Linked DNA regions of Homo sapiens. The protein of the gene in region 2 interacts with the protein of the main gene of each other region in a pairwise test. Each region holds a gene or a part of one and is shown on either strand. Other genes may lie near its edges.

The links.
Region 1: the proteins of CDIP1 (region 2) and CCR2 interact in a two-hybrid assay, tested with the Homo sapiens proteins (one large-scale study listed by BioGRID and IntAct).

What each region holds. Positions count from the first base shown.
Region 1 is NC_000003.12:46,357,097-46,359,586, reverse strand, and holds part of CCR2 (C-C chemokine receptor type 2), read right to left. Parts: intron 2,111-2,490; 5' UTR 2,060-2,110; coding exon 977-2,059; 3' UTR 1-976. UniProt on the Homo sapiens protein: Key functional receptor for CCL2 but can also bind CCL7, and CCL12. Also transduces signaling mediated by CCL13.
Region 2 is NC_000016.10:4,528,659-4,532,483, forward strand, and holds part of CDIP1 (cell death-inducing p53-target protein 1), read right to left. Parts: intron 1-3,825. UniProt on the Homo sapiens protein: Acts as an important p53/TP53-apoptotic effector. Regulates TNF-alpha-mediated apoptosis in a p53/TP53-dependent manner.

The DNA.
Region 1 (2,490 bases), on a different chromosome or scaffold from region 2:
CTGGGTTCTGATGCAGCCTTCCTGGCTCTCTCCACTTAGTTGATTTCGGAAATAGTTCTGCAGTGGTTCCACACGATCCCCGTCCTTTGCTCCTGGTGAAGGAACTCATCATTCTCCACCCCCTTCTCATAATCACTACCTCCTGGAGAGATCAAGCAAGAGCCTATATATATTGCATATACATATATTAGCATATCATAGATAATGCATCTTTTATAAACAAAAATTTTCTGAATTTTTAGACAGGGGGATGTGGCCTAAGAAGCATCTGAACAATGGAGCATGATATTTCATAGATTTCAAATGTAAGGTGCATGGGTGCCATAGATAAACTGTAATAAAGCAAAAATATGTCATGCACTTATGCAAAAGAGAATCATCGGACTCCACCAAAACTCCCAGGTTATTGCAGTTCCCAAACTCTCCCTGACCTGGTGAACCCTTCAAGGTTAAATACACGTGGCAGATGGGGCTAAGGACCAGTATCATCTCCTGGCTGAATGCGTGAGCCCTTTGCTCACCTTTGTCTTTGTCCAGGCTCAGCCATGCTCATGTCTCCCTCCTTCTCCTCTCAGCCCTGACCCCACTATCCCTCACTCCCATTCATCTGTGCCTGTCACATTCTCTTCTTCACCTCCAGCTGGCCCTTGATTTCAAGACATTGACAGAATCAGAGATTGAGTGAAGAAATTATGAAGACTAGAAAAAGAGGATTAGCACAAGGTAATGAGGCATTTTTCAGGAGCTGAGATGAGCTTTCTGGAGAGTCAAAGTCTCTACCCACAGTTTTTCTGGATTATTCCCTGAGCACATGTTGGATATGCATTGGGTGACATAGTCTGTATTAGTACACACAGCCCTGAGGTTCCTGGGCACCTGCTTTACAGGTTTCTATTGTTCAACAAACCCTTGAAGTTTGTTGTTATATACAGATTGTTATCTCCCTTTATAAACAACAATCAAACTGCTCCTCGTTTTATAAACCAGCCGAGACTTCCTGCTCCCCAGTGGAAGGCGTGTTTGTTGAAGTCACTCCATCCACTGTCTCCCTGTAGAAAACTGGACATTGTTTGCAGAAGCGCTTGGTGATGTGCTTTCGGAAGAACACCGAGAGATACCTTCTGAACTTCTCCCCAACGAAGGCATAGATGATGGGATTGATGCAGCAGTGAGTCATCCCAAGAGTCTCTGTCACCTGCGTGGCTTGGTCCAGTTGACTGGTGCTTTCACAGTTACTCAGGCCGAAGAATTCCTGGAAGGTGTTCAGGAGAATGACAATATTATAGGGAGTCCAGAAGAGAAAGTAAACAATCATGATGGTGAAGATGACTCTCACTGCCCTATGCCTCTTCTTCTCGTTTCGACACCGAAGCAGGGTTTTCAGGATTCCCGAGTAGCAGATGACCATGATGAGCAGCGGCAGGACCAGCCCCAAAATGTTCCTCATTATTGTGTGGAAATTATTCCATCCTCGTGGAAAATAAGGGCCACAGACATAAACAGAATCTTCTTTCTGGCATTTAGTAAAGATGATTCCTGGGACAGAAGCAAACACAGCCACCAACCAGGTGATCACACTTGTCACCACCCCAAAGGTGACCGTCCTGGCTTTTAAAGCAAACACAGCATGGACAATAGCCAGGTATCTATCGATTGTCAGGAGGATGATGAAGAAGATTCCGCCAAAATAACCGATGTGATACAGCCCTGTGAATAATTTGCACATTGCATTCCCAAAGACCCACTCATTTGCAGCAGAGTGAGCCCACAATGGGAGAGTAATAAGAAAAAGCAGATCAGAGATGGCCAGGTTGAGCAGGTAAATGTCAGTCAAGCACTTCAGCTTTTTGCAGTTTATTAAGATGAGGACGACCAGCATGTTGCCCACAAAACCAAAGATGAACACCAGCGAGTAGAGCGGAGGCAGGAGTTGGGCCCCAATTTGCTTCACGTCAAATTTATGACAGGGAGCACCGTAATCATAATCAAAAAAGGTGGTGACTTCTTCACCGCTCTCGTTGGTATTTCTGATAAACCGAGAACGAGATGTGGACAGCATGTTGTGGATGTACTGGGGAAATGCGTCCTTGTTCAATCCACTTTCTCTGTTCTGTAAACAAAGAACAAAATGATGACCACACAACACAAACACCGCAATCCATGATCTTCCAAATAGTCTGGCACCACATAAGCAACTTCCCAGTCTTTGCCCTCTCCCTTGCAGCCATCTCCCTGAAAGCATGTGTGCCAGTTCCTGATTTGCCTTTCATTCCTAGTGGCAGACATCAATGATTTACCCAACAGCCATTTTCCGACACCCTTTATCTTCCCCAGCAAACCAGATTCTCATTTTCAGGCTAAAAGCGCTGGGCGTTTGTTTTCTCTGGCTCCTTTGCAGGTGGTGCATAGGTCTGTGACTCATTGCTGGACCATAATATGAAAAGGGAGTCTGCTGGGGGCTTCTGAGAAAGCTCTTCTTCCCTGATAAGA
Region 2 (3,825 bases):
CAACAGTGGGGAAGAACCCTGTCTCAAAAAAAAAAAAAAAAAAAAAAAGGCTGGCCGCGGTGGCTCACACCTATAATCCCAGCACTTTGGGAGGCTGAGGCACGCAGATCACCTGAGGTCAGGAGTTCGAGACCAGCCTGGCCAACATGGTGAAACCCCATCTCTACTAAAAATACAAAAATTAGCCAGGCGTGGTGGCGCATGCCTGTAATTCCAGCTACTTGGGAGGCTGAGGCAAAAGAATTACTTGAACCCAGGAGGCAGAGGTTGCAGTAAGCTGAGGTCGCATCATTGTACTCCAGGCCGGGCAACAAGAGCGAAACTCCATCTCAAAAAAATATATATATACTACTCCTCATACTCCTCAATCCAGAAACACACCTCAGACTATAATCTAATTTCACCTACAGGAGAAAATGCTCTGCAGAGCAAGCCAGAGGCCTGGACTGGTTAGTGGCCTCCTCTCCAAAGCCAGCCCCTTATGGCCATAGGTCTCCCATGAGTTTGGTCAAATGAGTCAGTTCTGCCAGATCACCTCCCGGTACTCCAGGCAAATGGAAAGTTTAGATCTGTAAAGTTGGAATGTAATGACCTCACAGTCCTGCTAGCCTAGGAGACCCCGCCAGGAGACCCAGCAGGAGGTCACCTGACCAAAGAGGGCTGGTAAGAAAGTCCCCGTTGGATGCATAATAAAAACGAGTGATAGAGCCCATGCTGAGGACACAGCCCCGGCCTCCCAACTCGCCCAGTGATCTCGCCAGGACTCTGAACTACCTCCCAGGCAGAACGCTGCTCAAGAGCTTGTTCCTGCATGCTCTCCTGCTAGCAGAGAAAATGAAGGAAGCACAGACAGGAGGGGAAATGCAGAGCAAAAGGAAAAAATCAGACACAGCTCAACCACAAGTGAATAAACAAGTCATCTGCACCTGTCCCACAGGCAGGCCTTGGTAACTACAAGGCTGACTAATTTTAGAAACAGCATGAACCTAAAGAACCATCATTTAAGTGCTCAAAATGGAGCCCTTAAAAAAAATCCTTCTGTCTGCCTGTACTGAGCAGACACAAAATGGACAGTCTTGGGTTGACTCTATTCAACCAGCTGTCTGTTGGATGAGATCAAGACACACCACTGCAACCTACAAAAAAGCACCAGGCCGTTAAGTGCAGTCAAGACACGTGGCCACTCACGGCCACCCAGGTGGAAGAGTCTTAATTCAGACACAAATGTCTCCTGGCCGTCCTTAGCCAGGGAGCTGGGCTCTGCCCGCGGCCAGGTCTTGCCTGAGTCCCCCTATTCCGTGGGTCGGGGTGGGATGTGGAAAAGCAAACCTCTAGGCTTTCTTCCTCCAAATGTGTCAGTCACCATACATACCTGTACACAGAAGCTCCCCCTCCAGCAATTTTCCCTCAGAACAGTGAGGACAGTGGCTCATCCCTGCGACATTTAGATCTCTCATGTTACAGGGCATTCTTTCAATTATTTTGAAGACATTTCTGATGGGTGAAGAAAGCGCTCTAGGAACTGAGAGTGGGAATCTAATTTGTATTTTACACTACATTAGATGCAACAGTATATAGCATATGGAAATTAGTTAACTGAGTTTCTATCACTCTTAGTTGGCATCTGACCCTAAGAATTCACTTACATTGGTTGGGTGTGAAACAAACTGAATTAGTAGTTTACACTGCATTATATGAAACAGTATATAGACTGGGTGCAGTGGCTCACGCCTGTAATCCCAGCACTTTGGGAGGCTGAGGCAGTCGGATCACTTGAGGTCGGGAGTTCGAAACCAGCCCGACCAACATGGAGAAACCCCATCTCTACTAGAAATACAAAATTAGCCGGGCGTGGTGGCACATGCCTGTAATCCCAGCTACTCGGGAGGCTGAGGCAGGAGAATCACTTGAACCCACGAGGTGGAGCTTGCAGTGAGCCGAGATTGCGCCAGTACACTCCAGCCTGGGCGACAGAGTGAGACTCCATCTCAAAAAAAAAAAACAAAAACAAAAAAAACAGAAATAGTATACAGTAGGCCAGGCACTGTGGCTCAGGACTGTAATCTCAGCACTTTGGGAAGTCAAGGCAGGAGGATCACTTGAGACCAGGAGTTCAAAGCTGCAGTGAACTGAGTGCGCCACTGAACTCCACCTGGGCAACAAAGCAAGACTCTGCCTCAAAAAAAAAGAAAGAAATAGTATATAGAAGTTTATTAGGTTGGTACAAAAGTAATTGCAGTTTTTGCCTAAGTTCCTGTAACTCTAAGTCAACATCTGGCCCTGAGTTCACTCATGCTGGCTGGGACAGAAGACTTATTCTGGAAGCTTGGGAAAACAGGAGCTCACGTCATGATTGGGACTGCCATCTGCTTGGCCATGTATATATTTCTCTATGACTCAGACATCAGAGACCAGGCTGGAGTGCAGTGGCGTGATCTCGGCTCATTGCAACCTCCACCTCCCAGGTTCACGCAATTCTCATGCCTCAGCCTCCCAAGTAGCTGGGACTACAGGCGCCTGCCACCACACCCAGCTAGTTTTTTGTATTTTTAGTACAGATGGGGTTTCACCGTGTTAGCCAGGATGGTCTCGATCTCCCGACCTCGTGATCCGCCTACCTCGGCCTCCCAAAGTGCTGGGATTACAGGTGTGAGGCACTGTGCCCGGCCTTTTTTTTTTGTATTTTTAGAGACGGGGTTTCGCCATGTTTGCCATGGTCTCAAACTCCTGACCTCAAGTGATCCTTCTGCCTCAGCCTCCCAAAGTGCTAAGATTATAGGTGTGAGTGTCTGCTCCTGGCCAGAGAACACCTTTTGGAGGTTGCAAGGCCATCAGAGATGACTGGGTCCAAGTCTAAGCTGCCATTCATTTCTGTCTTAAATGTTTACTAAGCACCCATGGAAGACAGGTGCCCTGTGAAGTGCTGGAGATGACGGTGGGCGAGCAAGCAGTGGCACAGAGTGGGGAGCAGTCTCCGAGGAGAGAAGTGGCTGCCCCGGGCACCCCAGCTGCCTGGAGATGACAGAGCCAAGACAGGACCTCAGCTGTCCTGACTCTCTCCTTCCACATCACTGTCAGCCCTGTTTCTTTTCTCACACATTCTCCAGAAATGGTTTTCAAAATACACTTGAGTGGGATCTCACACTCCCAATAAAGTGCTTCACACAGTGTAGCTCACACAGTGCAGTTCCTTCACATGCGTTCCATTTACATAGATTTCATGGTACCCAGGACAAAAAGCTGAAGTGGCAGTGCCCGGTCCCCTGCTTTCCCTGGGGAGGGAAATGGGACACAGAACGTGCTGTTTCCTCAGGCCCCGCTGGGCCTCTAGCAGGGGGAGTGCCTCTGAGCTAATAGGCAATTCAAGGACTTTAGAGGACAGTTTGACTTATGAGGTCTTTGCTCTGCTAGTTGACTTTAGAACCTAACCCACTGAATGTGTACTGAAGAATTCAACACAGCATGCAAATCAGCACCCCCAACACTCAGGCAATGACGGAGCACATGAAGACCACGGTCCCTGCGTCTTGGCTCTTAGGAAGATGAGACGGCTGAAATGCAGGCATGGTGTATCATTTTATTCAACCAATAAGTATGGACCACACACTATGCGTGAGGCATTTCCTAGGCACTGAAGATGGCAGATCAACGTCTGTCTTAATGGCAGGCAGCTTCAGTGGGGGGCTGAGTAGAGGGCATAAAATACAGAAATAAAACATCGGGCCTGGCACAGAACAAAGCGTGGCATGGAAGAAGGAAGAACAAGGAAGTGGTTGCCACAGGGCTGCAGTTGTCACCAGGGATAGCTCCACTGAGCAGGGAACA